Regions from separate parts of the Homo sapiens genome. Here region 1 is linked to region 2. The links come from fine-mapping of genetic effects on gene expression. A gene starts in region 2. The other region holds a variant in brackets. All regions are shown on one strand. Distances are between the middles of the regions. Region 1 overlaps IP6K1 (inositol hexakisphosphate kinase 1). Region 2 holds the start of GMPPB (GDP-mannose pyrophosphorylase B).

Evidence for each region. PIP is the estimated chance that this variant, and not a neighbour inherited with it, causes the effect.
Region 1: its variant is fine-mapped to the expression of GMPPB in esophagus mucosa (GTEx, PIP 0.97).

The regions. Positions count from the first base shown.
Region 1 is chr3:49,770,263-49,778,585 of GRCh38, reverse strand. All of the region lies in intron 1 of IP6K1 (inositol hexakisphosphate kinase 1), which reads left to right. It also overlaps the pseudogene PHF5AP3. Among named protein-coding and RNA genes, the nearest start is that of IP6K1, 12 kb to the left of the region's middle. The variant C/T (reference allele first, on the strand shown) is at 4,972.
Region 2 is chr3:49,719,337-49,727,646 of GRCh38, reverse strand. It overlaps GMPPB (GDP-mannose pyrophosphorylase B), which reads left to right and starts at 3,696. Exons shown (of 9, transcript NM_021971.4): 1 at 3,696-4,049; 2 at 4,175-4,255; 3 at 4,345-4,393; 4 at 4,533-4,675; 5 at 4,893-5,051; 6 at 5,137-5,215; 7 at 5,289-5,416; 8 at 5,500-5,682; 9 at 5,764-7,731. The coding sequence starts at 3,921. The coding sequence ends at 5,895. RNF123 (ring finger protein 123) reads right to left here. Exons shown (of 39, transcript NM_022064.5): 36 at 6,994-7,136; 37 at 6,753-6,847; 38 at 6,542-6,627; 39 at 6,118-6,462. The coding sequence ends at 6,342. AMIGO3 (adhesion molecule with Ig like domain 3) reads left to right here and starts at 7,963. Exons shown (of 1, transcript NM_198722.3): 1 at 7,963-8,310. The coding sequence starts at 8,182. It overlaps IP6K1 (inositol hexakisphosphate kinase 1), which reads left to right. Exons shown (of 6, transcript NM_153273.4): 6 at 1-3,353. The coding sequence ends at 525. RefSeq lists silencers at 3,203-3,652, 6,427-6,604 and enhancers at 4,293-4,392, 7,599-7,828, 8,190-8,310.

The DNA.
Region 1 (8,323 bases), 51 kb before region 2:
TCTCGGCTCACTACAACCTCTGCCTCCCAGGTTCAACTGATTTTCCTGCCTCAGCCTCCTGAGTAGCTGGGATTACAGGCACCTACCACCATGCCCAGCTAATTTTTGTATTTTTAGTAGAGACGAAGTTTCACCGTGTTGGCCAGGCTAGTCTTGACCTCCTGACCTCAAGCCATCCACCTGCCTTGGCCTCCCAAAATGCCGGGATTACAGGCATGAGCCACCACACCTTGCCAAGACCCTGCCTTTTTTTTTTTTTTGAGACCGAGTCTCACTCTTGTTGCCCAGGCTGGAGTGCAGTGGCGCGATCTCAGTTCACTGCAACCTCCACCTCCAGGGTTCAAGTGATTCTCCTGCCTCAGCCTCCCAAGTAGCTGGGATTTACAGGCATGTGCCAGCACGCTCGGCTAATTTTTGTATTTTTAGTACAGACGGGGTTTCACCATGTTGGCCAGGATGGTCTCGATCTCCTGACCTTGTGATCCACTCGCCTTGGCCTCCCAAAGTGCTGGGATTACAGGTGTGAGCCACCACACCCAGCTGAGAGACCCCGTCTTAAAAAAAAAAAGTCATTTCACTGTTAAAGAAAATCCCCTGCACACCAGAAATGGCCAGCTGATCTCTGATCTTTGACCTTTATGCTTTATCATTGTTTTTTTTGTTTGTTTGTTTGCCACAGAGTCTCGCTCTGTCGCCCAGGCTGGAGTGCGTGGCGCGATCTCAGCTCACTGCAAGCTCCGCCTCCCGGGTTCACGCCATTCTCCTGCCTTCGCCTCCCGAGTAGCTGGGACTACAGGCGCCTGCCACCACGCCCGGCTAATTTTTTTGTATTTTTAGTAGAGACAAGGTTTCACCATGTTAGCCAGGATGGTCTCGATCTCCTGACCTTGTGATCCGCCCATCTCGGCTTCCCAAAGTGCTGGGATTACAGGCGTGAGCCACCACGCCTGGCCCTTTATCATTGTTTTTAAAGAAATTTCCAACTTTATTGTGGTATAATTTTTCTTTTTTTCTTTTTTTTTTGAGATAGAGTCTCGCTCTGTCTCACAGGCTGGAGTGCAGTGGCGCAATCTCCACTCACTGTAACCTCCACCTCCCAGGTTCAAGTGATTCTCCTGCCTCAGCCTCCCGAGTAGCTGGGAGTACAGGCATGTGCCACCACGCCCGGCTAATTTTTTGTATTTTTAGTAGAGATGGGGTTTCACTGTGTTAGCCAGGATGGTTTCGATCTCTTGACCTCAGGCAATCCATCCACCTCGGCCTCCCAAGGTGTTGGGATTACAGGCATGAACCACTGCACCTGGCCCAACAGATGTCTATTTCACTTCATTGAAAAGATTTCTGTTTTTGGAGACAGAGTCTTGCTCTGTCACCCTGATTGGGGTGCAGTGGTGCCATCTTGGCTCACTGCAACCTCCGCCTCCTAGGTTCAAGTGATTTTTGTGCCTCAGCCTCCAGAGTAGCAGGGATTACAGGCATGTGCCACCACAATGGACTGATTCTTGATTTTTTTAGTAGAGATGGGGTTTTGCCATGTTGACCAGGCTTGTCTCGAACTCCTGACCTCAAGTGATCCATCCACCTTGGCCTCCCCAAGTGCTGGGATTACAGGCATGCGCCACTGTGCCCGGCCCAGTGAAAAGATGTCAGTTAGTCATAGAAGGTACTCTTATTTCCCTTTCCAGTCAACCCCAGCCTGCTTTCTTGGACACAGACAGGTGCCAATCTTTCTATCACTGTAGATTAAATTTGCGTTTCTTAGAAGTTTCACATAAATGGAATCATATTAATATACAGTCGATCCTCATTATTCACAGAGTTTGTATTTTCAAGTTTGCAGACCTGCTAAAATTTACTTGTAACCCCAAAATCAGTACTTTTGGTGCTTTTGCTATCATTTATAGATGTGCACAGAGTGACAAAAATTTTGAGTTGTGTGTTCCTAGCTGAGGTTAAACAAGGCAACATGCTGCTGCCTTCTTTTCAATTATCATACTGTAAATAAGTGTCCTTTTCTTGGTCTATTTAGTACCATGGTTTTTTGCATTTATTTGCTTTTTTTTTTTACTGAGACTGAGTCTTGCCCTGTCACCCAGGCTAGAGTGCAGTGGTGCTATCTCGGCTCACTGCAACCTCCGCCTCCCAGGTTCAAGTAATTTTCCTGCCTCAGCCTCGCGAATAGTTGGGATTACAGACATGCACCACCATGCCTGGCTAATTTTTGTATTTTTAGTAGAGATGAGGTTTCACCATGTTGTCCAGGCTGGCCTCGAGCTCCTGGCTTCAAGTGATCTGCCCATCTCGGCCTCCCAAAGTGCTGGGATTACACGCGTGTGCCACTGCACCTGTCCTGATTTACTTTTTGTTGGTGATTTTTAATGTTTATTTTCATTTTTATTTATTTTACCAGAAAATAAACACTAACTTTATTAATGTAATAGCAACAGAAAGGGTTTCCAATTTCTCAGAAGGAAAATAACATGACAATAGCGCAAGTGTTAAAAGAGTAAATGGCTACATTTCTTGTTCTGATAGCTTCCCACCATACACCAAAGGTTCTTCAAGGACAGCTGCCACCAGAGCTGCTGCAAGATCATGTTTTTCACTGGGTGTAGCTTCACAGTCAACTCCTCAAGCAGAAGACTAAAATATTATTTCTTAGAAGATCTTGGTTGAGGGAGAACATATCAATATGGAGAACAGATCTTTGCTTCTCAAATTCAAGAAAAACCATTAACTAATCTATCAATTTTTCTCCAATACAGTGTGCCAGAGTGCTCTGTGAAGAATCCTTTTCCATCCCTACCACATGTCTGGGTGAAGGGAGGGGAGGGTTGGTAAGCTGCCAGGACACTAGCAGGCACTCCTGGTGATGCTCTGGGCTCTGCTCCCTTTCTGCCGGGAGTAGCAGGCATCTTTTCTAGCCGCTGCAGCAGCTTGATGTTGTGGGGAGGAAGGGGCCACCCACCAATCACCTCTTCTTGAAGCTGCATTTTTTTGTGTTCGTAGAAGAGGTCTGTCTTAGAGCTCCCCAAATTGACAATCTTTGGGCAGCCATCTCTATCCTTCTCCTAGATGGTGCACTCCTTACAGTAATAGGCACCAGAGACCCCAGGGCCTCCACAGATCACACGGCACCCCTGCTAAGATACGTAGTTACACTCATCACATAGCACACCAGAGTGCAGGGACGCACAAAGTCACAAATCACACACTTGCTGTCACATTTTTCACACAATCTTCCAATGACAACACCAGCTGGCTTGCAGCAAAAGATCAAATTAGGATGATGTTTAGCCATAGTTCCCAATGAAGCCGGCCGCTAGAAGCCTATTTTTTTATTTTTTCGAGACTGCTTACAGGTTGTTAGCCACTGCGCCTGGCCTTGTTGGTGATTTTGATGCTTAAAATGGCCCCCAAACGTATTGAAGTGCTGCCTGGTGTTTTTAAACACAAGAAGGCTTTGATTACCTTACAAGGAATGTGTAGGGAAGTTTTGTTCAGGCATGAGTTATAATGCTGTTAACTATAGTTCAGTGTTAATGAATCAGTTATTTATATTAAATAAGGTGTTTTTAAATAGAAACATACCTAAAAGGTTTTATATTGTATGTATGTAGATCTGGAAGGTTGTATATTAATTGGTTAATGAAAATATGACTAGATCATCTTCTACTGGCTGAGAGTTTATTAAACAAAAAAAAAAAGAAATTATGACCAGAGGCCTACAGGAACTTAACCATTTATTTTGTCTAGGTGCAGTGACTCAGTATTCAATAACTCAGTGTACACAATGACTTTATAAAACATAATTACCATCAATAATGAGAATTGACTGTATAGTTTCTTGTGTCAGAGCCCTAGCTAAGTGTTCTAGACTTTAATGTCTGGGAGCCACAGACAGTGCTTTTGTTGATAAGTATTCATCCCTTAAATTCCCTCTCCCATTAAAAGTCATTTCCACAGGTCACCTATTATGCATAGCTGAATTTGTAATATTTCATTGTTTTACCATTAACTTCTTGGGCCATACTGACTTTCAGTTCTCTGAAGGCAGGAATTATTTTTGTCTTGTTAGTAATAATATACTACATGGTCTTACTCTGTAGATACTCAATATGTATTTGATCATGTAAGTACTTAAATTTTTTTTTTCTTTTTTTTTTTTTTTTTTTTTTGAGATGGAGTCTAGCTCTTTCGCCCAGGCTGGACTGCAGTGGCACTATCTCAGCTCACTGCAAGCTCCACCTCCTGGGTTCACGCCATTCTCCTGCCTCAGCTTCTCGAGTAGCTGGGACTACAGGCACCCGCCACCGCACCCGGCTAATTTTTTTTGTATTTTTAGTAGAGATGGGGTTTCACCATGTTAGCCAGGATGTTCTCGATCCTCCTAACCTCATGATCCGCCTGCCTTGGCCTCCCAAAGTGCTGGGATTACAGGCATGAGCCACTGTGCCCGGCCTGCAAATTTAAATTTAATGGTCCCTGACTAATTTGGAGACTTTATAGTTGCAATTCGGACAAAAAATTGGTTTGGTGGTGAGTATTCTGGTTTTATGTGTGTGTTGTGTGTGTGTGTGTGTGTGTGTGTGTGTGTGTGTGTGTTTTAGAGAGAGTCTTGCTAATGTTACTCATGCTGGTCTCGAATTCCTGGGCTCAAGTGATCCTGCTGCCTCAGCCTCCCATGTATACCACCATGCCTAGCTAGTGAATATTCTGAAACTTATTTATAAAGACTTATGCTCAACTTGAAGATGTTGTATGGATCAGGGTCAAGCAGCATGCTAGGCAGGATATACATAGGCTATTTTGGTTTACTGTTTTTGGTACTTTACCTGGAGACAGTGCAGCAAAAATTAAAGTGAGTTCACTAGCATAGAAAATATAATGAATATTAAAAAGCTTCTTCTCTATTTGGGAAGATGTATTATAAAATATGTGGCTATCTTTTTTATTTATTAATTTTTGAGA[C/T]GGAGTCTTGCTCTGTTGCCCAGGCTGGAGTGCAGTGGTGCGATCTCGGCTCACTGGCTCACTGCAGGCTCCGCCTCCCAGGGTCATGCCATTCTCCTGCCTCAGCCTCCTAAGTAGCTGGGACTACAGGCGCCCGCCACCACGCCCAGCTAATTTTTTGTATTTTTTAGTAGAGATGGGGTTTCACTGTGTTAGCCAGGATGGTCTCGATATCCTGACCTTGTGATCCACCCACCTCGGCCTCCCAAAGTGCTGGGATTACAGGCGTGAGCCACCGCGCCCGGCCAGTATGTGGCTATCTTACATATTTTGCAGGTGTCTCTAAAGTAAGTGCTGACCTTGGTGCCAGGGAGCCCATATTAAGTTTGAGTAATTTCATGAAGCAGAGTGTACCAGGCAGGACCACTTGGACCCTTAAGCATATTAACTTGACTGTTTACAGTATTACTTTTCATTGGTAGAATTGGGACTATATACAAAATTATTAATTGGCCAGGTGCAATGGCTCATGCCTGTAATTCCAGCACTTTGAGAGGCTGAGGCAGGAGGATCAGTTAAGCTTAGAAGTTCAAAACCAGCCTGGACAACCCAGCAAGGCCCGCTTATCTACCAAAAAATAAACAATTAGCTGGGCATGGTGGGACATGCCTAAAATTCCAGCAACTGGGGAGGCTGAGGTAGGAGGATCACTTGAGCATAGGAGTTGGAGGCTGCAGTGAGCAGTGATCATACCACTGCACTCCTGCCTGGGTGAGAGTGAGACTCTGTCTTTAAAAAAAAAAAAAAGCTCAAGAGTTCAAGACCAGCCTGGGCAACGTAGTGAGACCCTGTCTCTATGTAAAAAAAAAAAAGAATTATTAACTGTAACAGAGACTGGAGTAATGAGAAATTGGCTAGTCAGAAGTAGAGAGAGGCTGGGTGTGGTGGCTCATGCCTGTAATCCCAGCACTTTGGGAGGCTGAGATGGAAGGATCACTTGAGTCCAGGAGTTTGAGACCAGCCTGGGCAACATGGTGAAACCTTGTCTCTACAAAAAATAAAAAAATTAGCTGGGTGTGGCAGCATGTGCCTATAGTCCCAGCTACTAGAGAGGCTGAGATGGGAGGATTGCTTGAGACCAGGAGATGGAGGCTGCAGTGAATCATGATCGTGCCACTGCACTTTAGCCTGGGTAACAGAGTAAGACCCTGTCTCAAAAAAGAGAACGCTCTAGAATATAAGAAGACAATATATGTATATATAGCCTTCTATATATATATATTTTATATATTATATAGTCTTCCTATATATTATATATATAAAATATATTAAGTTAAAAAGGAAGACTATATAACATATATATTACATATATATGTGTTACACACACACACACATATATATATATATATATTTTTTTTTTTAAGGGAAAGGGTCTTGTTTTGTCACCCAGGCTGGAGTACAGTGGTGCAATTATAGCTCACTGCCACCTTGAACCCACCTTGGGCTCAAGGGATCTTCCCACCTCAGCTTCCCAAGTAGCTGGGACTACAGGTGTGCACTGCTGCACCCAGCTAATTAAAAAAATTTTCTGTAGAGGTCTTGCCATGTTGCCCAGGTTGGTCTCAAACTCTTGGGCTCAAGCGATCCTCCCTCTTTGGCCTCGCAAAGTGTTGGGATTACAGGTGTGAGCCACCACGCCTGGCCACTCTTGAGTAAGGTTTCTTTCACACAGTGTAGTGTTTTAATTTATACATGCTGTTGTCTGTATCAGTAGTTTATTTTTATTGCTATATAGTATTTCATTGCATTAACACTACAGTTTGTTTATTCTGTTGATAGATATTTGGGCTGTTTCCAGTGTTTGCCTTATGAGTAAAGCTTTTATGAACTTTTTTGCAAAGGTTTTTTGTGTGGACATACACATTCATTTCTCTTGAAGAGACTAGAATTGCTGGGTCATAGGATAGATGTATGTTTAGCTTTATAGGAAACTATAATACCTTTTCCAAAATGGTTGTACCATTTTTACACTCTCACCAGTAATGTATGAGAGTTGTGGTTGTTCCACATTTAGCAACATTAAGTGTGTTGTAGTGTGTTTTTAATTTTAGCCATTTGGGTGAAAGTATAGTGGTAACTCATTGTGGTTTTAATTTTCACTTACCTGAATGCTAATGATATTGAGCACCTTTTCCTGTACTTAATGGTCTTTGTGTATCTTCGTTTGTGAAGTATGTATTCAAATCTGTTGCCCATTTTTTTTTAAAATTGGCTTTTTTATTTTTTAAAGAAATGTATCTTTTAGAGATAGGGCCTCCCTATGTTGCCCAAGCTGGACTTGAACTTCTGGGCTCAAAGGATCCTTCTGCCTCATCCTCTCAAGTAGCTGGGACTATAGGTGTTCACCACTGTGCCTGGCAGGGTTTTTTTTTTTTTTTTTTTTTTTTGTTACTGAGTTTTAGGAAGTTTTTTTGTATTCTGGATACTATATTTTTTGTTTTTTGTTTTGTTTTTTTAGAGACAGGGTCTTGCTCTGTTGCCCAGGCTGGAGTGTAGTAGCGTGATCATAACTTAGTGTACCCTCTAACTCCTGGGCTTAAACGACCCTCCTGCCTCAGCCTCCCTAGTAGCTAGGACTACATGTGCATACTACCATGCCCAGCTTATTTTCTTTTTAAAAATTTTTTGTAGCAACGGAGGTCTCAGCATATTTGCCCAGGCTGATCCTGAACTCCTGACCTCAAGCATTCCTCTTGCCTGGGCCTCACAAGATGCTAGGAATACGGGTGTGATCAAGACTCCATCTCATAAATAAATAATCAGAGGTTTTCAATTTTGATGAAGTCCGATTTATCAATAATTTCTGTTATGGTTATTGCTTTCTGTGTTCTGTCTGAGTGTCTGAGGACACCTTGCCTACCTCTTAAGTGTTGGACATTTCTAGCAAGGCTTGAAGTCAGGTAGTGTAAATCATATAACTTTATTTTTTTTGAGACAGGGTCTGGTTCTGTCACCCAGGCTGGAGTGCAGTGGCATGATCTCCGCTCACTACACCCTCCACTTCCTGGGCTCAAGCCATTCTCCCACTTCAGCCTCCCGCGTAGCTAAGACTACAGGTGAGCTCTGCACACCTTGGCCTCCCAAAGTGCTGGTATTATAGGTATGAGCCACCATGCCCAGCCTAACTTTATTTTTTGTGTTTTCACCTACAAGCTTTCTAGTTTTAGCTTTTACATTTTGGTCTCTGAGTCATCCTAAGTTAATTTTTGTTATTGTGTGAGATTGGGGCTGGTGTTTCTTTTTCCCCCACATAGATAACTGATTGTTCCATTACTAGCAACATTTGTTGAAAAGACTTGTGTATTATCTATTG
Region 2 (8,310 bases):
CTGGACACAGGGCATTACCTCTGCAGGAACAAGTACTATGGCCGTGGGCTCTCCATTGAAGGCTTCCGCAATGCCCTCTATCAATATCTGCACAATGGCCTGGACCTGCGACGTGACCTGTTTGAGCCTATCCTGAGCAAACTGCGGGGCCTGAAAGCTGTGCTGGAGCGGCAGGCCTCTTACCGCTTCTACTCCAGTTCCCTGCTTGTCATCTATGATGGCAAGGAGTGCCGGGCTGAGTCCTGCCTGGACCGCCGGTCTGAGATGCGTCTCAAGCACCTGGACATGGTGCTCCCTGAGGTGGCGTCATCCTGTGGCCCCAGCACCAGCCCCAGCAACACCAGCCCCGAGGCGGGTCCCTCCTCTCAGCCCAAGGTGGATGTCCGCATGATTGACTTTGCACACAGCACATTCAAGGGCTTCCGGGATGACCCCACCGTGCATGATGGGCCAGACAGAGGCTACGTGTTTGGCCTGGAGAACCTCATCAGCATCATGGAACAGATGCGGGACGAGAACCAGTAGGCCCTGTTCTGGGCCCCCAGAACCCCTTCCTCTCCACTGCAGGCAGGGACCATTGTTCTGAACTTGCCGTGAGGACACACAGACTTGCTTTTAAAGGGTTATATTTCTCTTTGGTGTAAACTAAAAGAAATGTTTTTAGCTGTAGCCTGGAATCCATATATATAAAGTGAAGGAGGGCAGACCACACGCCCTCTCAGCCAGGCTCCTCAGCTTTGTGGCTCTGACTGGTGTGTCCAGGCTGCCTTAGGAAGGAAGAGGTGCCCCTGGTGGGCTTGGCAGCAGGGACAGGGTGCCCTTGGACATTGGTTTCTCTTGTCTAGATCTTTGAGATCTGTGGCTGCAGGGCCCTGCTGATTGTAAGGTAAAGCCCTGGGCTGGTGCAGGGCCCCTCCACGCCCACTCTTCCCTTGTTCCCCAGAAGTAGAGGGCTCTGGGTGCCCATTTCTTGGGGGCTTTCCAGTCTTATGCTGTGGGTGTCAGCTAGCTCTTTAATAGGTGCCCTCAGGGCACCACAGGGCTGACTGCACAAAGCTGGACCCATCCTTCGGTCTGACCTTAGCATGGGGCTAGATTAATGAAGCTGGGCTGAGGCCAACTTATGGCAGAGGGCGGCGCCTGGGTTCCCCAGGCACCTGTTGGCACGTGACAGGTTGGCACCTGTCCTATTCCTGAAACAGCCTCTCTCACCAAGTTCCCTTGCCTAAGAAGGCCACTCCCTCCCACCCCACTGAAGTGGGGGATAGTCGGTGTCCTAGCAGGCCTCAGGGCCTCTGGTGGCTCTGGCCCAGACAGTATTTGCAGTTCTTGTGCTATGGGTGGGAGTCTTCTTCCTCAAGTTTCGGCAGCTGTGCTGCTGCTGGATGGGCTGCTCCTCCCAGGGCTCAAGGGCTGTGGTCCGCTCAGGGTCTCATTTCCCCAGGCCAAGTTCAAGGCAGCAGCCCTTTGTGAGGCGCTCTTGGCCCTGGGCCTGGAGGGAGAACTTTAAGCTTTTTTGCTCACAGGGACGTGGTATGGGCCCTGGGTGCAGGTGCCCACATTCTGCTAATGAGAGCTTTGTCTGATCAGTCCTGGGTCCATCAGTTTGTCCATGTGTCCGGCTGCCAGCCCGTCCCTTGGGATCCTTCCCCTGGGGTGTAGCCTTGTTCATTAGTATATACTCATTCCTTCATGCTTTCCTCAGCAGAACACTTCCACTTCTGAGGTGAGCTTTTGCCCCATGCCCTTCCTCCACAGGTGTTGCCTTTTTATAAAGACCTGATAGCAGAATAAATTGGTGTTTCCCTGTTGACCCAGCACCATTTCTGTGGGCCTAGAATATGGCCCTCAACCCTTAGAGTGGGGCAGTGAGGGCTTGAGGAGTGACCCTTCCTTTCTCATGGTTTTAGTCATTTTGGCTGCCAGCCCTTAATGGCACAGATCTGCTGCTTCTAACAGATGGCCAGGAGGTGACACCGATTTCAGCCATTGCCAAGGTTAGCACCCTCTCCTTTGAGCCTAGGGCCACACTGTTCATTGTCACTTTAGGCAAGTGCCTGTTTGGCTTTAAAGGTAAGCCTGCCAGCTGTGAGAAGCCTTGGTAACTGATGGACTCATTTCCTGGTCCTTAAAGATGCAGCCTCTTAAGGGCTCCTTGATGGATGCCATCTCTCCTAGCCCCCAGCCCTGGTGCCACTGGTGGGCAGGTTCCCATTCTTTGGGGCTGGGAGGGACAGCTTGCCTGTTTCTGGTCACAAATTACAGTCTTCTCTCCTGTACCATTCTGTGGCTTCAGCCATGGGGGCAGTAGCCCTTCATTAGTGTAGATAGTCATTCCCTGGTAGGGTGGAGGGTAAGACATAGGGTCTGGAACTGTTTGGGACCTTTTGGGGATGTCCTGTGCCTCCCAGATTCCTCGATTCTGGGAGGAGAGGCTGCCGCATTCTGCTGCTCCTCACAGCGAGCAAAGCTGCACCCACTTACATTCAGTATTTTCCTGGCACTACAAAGAGTGGGAAGGCCTGGGATTTGCTGCTGCTCCCTTAGAGCAGGGCCCCTCTTTTCAGCACTTTGGACACCTGGAGACCCAGCCCTGTTATTTAATGGTAGTGGGCAAGTGTGTGTGCATACTGTCTGCCACTGCTTTCTCCCTGCCCCATGCCAGAGAGCCCTGTCCCTGCCAGGCCCAGCCTTCTTAGCCCCAACTTGGGAACAAAGTGCAACATGGGATCATGGGTTGGGGTGCTCAGGTGAGCCCTCTCTATAGTGCTTCCCTGGGCCAAGCTGACACCAGCCCCTGAGGGTGGGGTGGGACGGGTGGTGCTTAAAAGAGGAAGGGGACCAGTGTAGCAACTTGCCAGGGACCCCACCCCTCCCTCTCTGGGCCTGTGCAGTGAGCATGGGGATTCCCATCAAGGGGCCTGGCACCTGTGCTAGTTACGTAGCCGCTGCTCACGCGCTCACTCCTGACCACATGCACGTTCCCTAGATGCAGACTGCTTTGAACTTTAAAGCTGTACAATTTGGTTATGTTTGTGCTGACTTAAAATATATTTTAATGAGGAAAAAATAATGGAGAACCCTGGGAAGGACCTGGTTCTTTTGCTTCTCGGGGAACTGTAAGCCCTCGCGTTCTGGGAATCGCTCTCTGCTGCTCTTTCCTGGAAGCTAAGCCTGTCTCCACCGCCCGAGGCCTGCGCCGGTGGCTCCCGCCGCAGTTGCGTTTGCTTTGGACCTTGCGTGCGGGGGAGGGGGTGCTCGGTCCGAGCCCGCTCCTTTCTGTACACCTAGCGCTGCCCGCCCCGCTTGTGTCTGAGGTCGTGTATGTCAAAAATAAAGCCGCTAGAAACGGAGGCGAGTCTGTCTTTGTGAAAATCCCGTGGCCCGGGAGCCTTCCCTGGTCACCCTCGGGGCGAGGCCGGGGCCGTGGGGCGGGGCCGGCGGCTGCTGGACCGCGGCGAAGCAGGGAACAAGGCCTCGCCCTTGGCGCCAGTTCCGCCTTTGGATCCGCCAATGGCCAGCTGACCCGCGGGTCCCGGCCCGGGTCTCCATGGCAGCCCGGCGTACTCGGGCGCTCATTGGCTACGTCTGTCGCAGCGCTGCGCTCCAACGTTCCGACGCCGGCGGCCGTGCCACGTACGCGGCAGCCGATTGGCCCGCGGTGGTCGCGTCACTGCCCGCGCCGGGTCCGGCCTGAGTTCGGGGCCAGCAGCCGTCTACCCGGTGTCGCGTTCTGTGTTGTGGCGGCCCTGGATCCGGCGTCAGGGCGACCGGGCGGACGAGGTGGAGCCAGAGTCTGTCAGGCGGGTTGGTGAAGGGCGCGGGGCCGGGCACGGCGTTGGGAGTGCGCGGCAGGGACCGGCCAGGCGGGCTGCAGGCACCTCAGAGCCCGGGACACCCCCTCAACGTCCGCAGGCGCGATGAAGGCACTGATCTTAGTGGGGGGCTATGGGACGCGGCTACGGCCGCTGACGCTGAGCACCCCGAAGCCACTGGTGGACTTCTGCAATAAGCCCATCTTGCTGCACCAAGTGGAGGCGCTAGCCGCGGTAAGACCCTGGGTCGGGATCAGAGTCGCGTTCGGATCTGGCGGGACTAGGGATGGCCAGCGACTAGGGGTCAGGGGCTCCCGTACCTTCTGACTGAGCCCGCCCGTCGGCCTGCGTTCTGACAGGCAGGCGTGGACCACGTGATCCTGGCCGTGAGCTACATGTCGCAGGTGCTGGAGAAGGAAATGAAGGCACAGGAGCAGAGGGTGAGGCACAGACTCTTGGCCCTTATTCTCGGTCCCCGCCCAACTTCCCATCCTGGTAGAACCTGACTGGGGGGGCCTCTTCCTTCCAGCTGGGAATCCGAATCTCCATGTCCCATGAAGAGGAGCCTTTGGGGACAGGTCAGTAGAGGCAGAAAGGTCCCTTGGGGGAGGGTTTAAGGCCAGGAAAAGGGTAAGACCCAGCCTGGAGTGGGCCTGCTGAGCCTGAATCCAGGGACTCAGACCTCCAGCAAGGTGGTGACCTGTCCCCTTCCCCCAGCTGGGCCCCTGGCGCTGGCCCGTGACCTACTCTCTGAGACTGCAGACCCTTTCTTCGTCCTCAACAGTGACGTGATCTGCGATTTCCCCTTCCAAGCCATGGTGCAGTTCCACCGGCACCATGGCCAGGAGGGCTCCATCCTGGTAAGGCGCCAGGTCTTCTCTCTCTTGACACTTTCACCCTCCATGCCCAGCCTCCCATGCCCCCTAGCCTTCATCTGCCTTCGGATGTTATGGATACAGAGCTGTGCAGTATGTATCTTTAAGCACTTGGGGCAGAGTCTCTTGAGATCTGGAACGGCATGTGTATCAAGGCTTAGGAACACTGGACTAGGTCCGAGGTCCCCTTCCTTGCATTCAGGTGACCAAGGTGGAGGAACCCTCCAAGTACGGTGTGGTGGTGTGTGAGGCTGACACAGGCCGCATTCACCGGTTCGTGGAGAAGCCACAGGTGTTTGTGTCCAATAAGATCAACGCAGGCATGTACATCCTGAGCCCTGCAGTGCTGCAGCGCATCCAGGTGTGTAGGAGACAGCTGTTGGTGGGCTGGGGTGGGGCAGGCCATCACCGCCATGACCCTGCTCACAAGCTGCCCACTCCCACAGCTGCAGCCTACGTCCATTGAGAAGGAGGTCTTCCCCATTATGGCCAAGGAGGGGCAGCTATATGCCATGGAGTTACAGGGTGAGGCAGGGAGGCCACAGGGTGGGGGTGGTCTGTGGCTGGGCTGAGGCCCCTGATGCATCCCTCCCTACAGGCTTCTGGATGGACATTGGGCAGCCCAAGGACTTCCTCACTGGCATGTGCCTCTTCCTGCAGTCACTGAGGCAGAAGCAGCCTGAGCGGCTGTGCTCAGGCCCTGGCATTGTGGGCAACGTGCTGGTGGTGAGGCCCTTGCCCAGCCCATCATTAACCCCCTCAGTCTTGGGAGACAAGTGGCCCACTTGTATTTTTCCCACCGCTCTCAGGACCCAAGTGCCCGCATCGGCCAGAACTGCAGCATTGGCCCCAATGTGAGCCTGGGACCTGGCGTGGTGGTCGAAGATGGTGTGTGTATCCGGCGGTGCACGGTGCTGCGGGATGCCCGGATCCGTTCCCATTCCTGGCTTGAGTCCTGCATTGTGGGCTGGCGCTGCCGCGTGGGTCAGTGGGTAAGCCTGTGGGCTGGGCTGGGTGGGGAGAGGGGCGGGGAGTGTGCCTGCCTCCCTGACAAGGCCTATCCTCTCCTGGAGGTACGCATGGAGAACGTGACAGTGCTGGGTGAGGACGTCATAGTTAATGATGAGCTCTACCTCAACGGAGCCAGCGTGCTGCCCCACAAGTCTATTGGCGAGTCAGTGCCAGAGCCTCGTATCATCATGTGAGGGGATGCAGTGGGGCTGGCCGAGCCCCGGTTTTCCCATCAGCAAGGGGAGTGCTGGCCTGACACATCAGAAGACCCTGGACTTGTCATTATTTGTCTGGGGGGCACTGGGTGAAGCTGAAGCTGTTGGACACCTGCCTTCTCATGTGGACATCATCTGGCAGGATCCCTGCTGGGCACACCCCACAAACCCCACTCCCTCAAGAAGGGCCAGGGCCAGGGCTGTATGGAATAATAATTTAATGCTCACTGTGGCCCTGACTGAAAGTCAAGCTCAGGCACAATTAGGGCCATGGCTGGGCTCCCACCAATGAGGATACAGGCAGGCAAGGAGGTTGGATGTGGTGGTGTGGGATACAGGAGAAGGGCAAAGGGAGCTCATAAATAGGGCCCAGCCTGGCTCTGGGTTCAAAGGTGGAGGTTCCAGGATGGCACAGGCTGTGAGGGCTAGGCAGCTGAGGAGGTAGTACTCGTATTGGCTCCCTTCTCCCAGTCCTCTACAGACACGATGGTGGTTTTGCAGAAGAAGCAGTCCTTGTTGTTCATCAGGTGCTGGTTGATACAGGCTCTACAACAGGGGAGGGGATGAGGACTGCCCTGCATGTACCTACTGCTCTCCCCACCACCAAGCTGTGGGGCCCACTTACTTGCAGGACTTGTGGCCACAGGGCTGGAACACAGCAGAGATGGGGTGGGCATAGCAGATGGGGCAGAGGTCCTCCTCACTGGTGGGCTGCAGGGAGGAGAGTGAAGGGTGGGCTGGAGTTGGATGCCTGGCTATGTGGATGTCCGTTGTGCCTGTGTAGGAGTGCACACATATTCAAGTGGCATGGACCTGTGCACCGTGTTCCCACTCACCAGGGAGGCAGCTGCTGCCTGGGCAGATGCAGAGGTCAGGTGCGCCAGCATCTGTTCCACTTGGGCCAGCTCATCGGCACTGATATAATCCGCATCTGGGGAGTGGTAGGTAGTGTCAAGTCAGAGGTAGCTGAGGATGTGATGCCTCTTGAATATTCCCAGCCTAGGACTTTGCTGTTCTTAAGGCTCCTGACCCGACCCAGCCCCAGATTTCCCTGACCTGCCCCACCAGCCCACTCACAGCTCTGCAGGGAGAAGCGCTTCCGGTCAGGGGCTGGCAGAGCAGTGCCAGGTGCTGGGGGCTCTGGCTGTCCCAGGAGATAGCATATTGAGCGTAGCTGGAAGCAGGGATCTGCCAGGAGCACTGATGTGGCTTGCTCTCTCCTAGGTAGGGGAGGGTGCAAGGGCAGTCAGAAGGCTTGGGGCCTGGCTAAAAGTCTCTCTTGGGATTGCCAATGAGGAGTGCCATGGCTCGTACATGATCACCCCCCCTGCATCCTTTCCGTCTCCCTGCTTCCCAAACCCCAAGTCCTGTATTCTAGTAAGGTGCCACACAGCCTGTTTTTTTTTTTTTTTTCTTGAGACGAGTCTCGCTCTGTTGCCCAGGCTGGAGTGCGATGGCACGATCTCGGCTCACTGCAACCTCCACCTCCCGGGTTCAAGTGATTCTCCTGCTTTAGCCTCCCGAGTAGCTGGAATTGCAGACGCCCACCACCACGCCCGGCTAATTGTTGTATTTTTAGTAGAGACAGGGTTTCACCAGGTTGGCCAGGCTGGTCTCGAATTCCTGACCTCAGGTGATCCACCTGCCTTGGCTTCCCAAAGTGCTGGGATTACAGGCGTGAGCCACCGCGCCCGGCCTGGGGTACCACTTTAAGAAGGCTCAGGCGAACCACCTTAAGATAGTGAGAGTCTGCCTGCCCCATAATATTATCAGTCCTTCAAAGTCACTTCAAATAAACACTAACAGCAGCTTGGAGACATTCTTCCAGACTCCCCCTTTTACTCCCCGAGGAAAAACGAGCGGCGGAGAGCTGCCAGCCAAAGGCTGACGGGGACTTTGGGGTTGGCCTTGCTCCCCATCTGGCGGTCATGCGGGGCCATTGGGCACAAAGGGATGTAGCCGCCCCGCCTCCTCAAACGGGAACCAATAGGAGCCCGGGCCCCGCCCCTGGGGGGAGTATTTAGGAGCCGATCAGGAACTCGCTTGGAGAGGGCTAGCGAAGCCGAAGGGAGCGCGGCTAAGAGTGCCGCACCGCCTCACAACCTGGGAACCGGAGAGTAGGGGCCGTCGGCTGGCAAGAACCCGCCGTGCCTCCTCGGCAAGGGCCATCCGGTGCCACCCATGTCGCACTAGAGCAGAAGAGGGTGAGTCCTGGAACTGCAACCTGCACAGAGCTGCTCTGTACTGTCCCTGGTGGTCGCCGCCATGACCTGGTTGGTGCTGCTGGGGACACTGCTCTGCATGCTGCGCGTTGGGTTAGGCACCCCGGACTCCGAGGGTTTCCCGCCCCGTGCGCTCCACAACTGCCCCTACAAATGTATCTGCGCTGCCGAC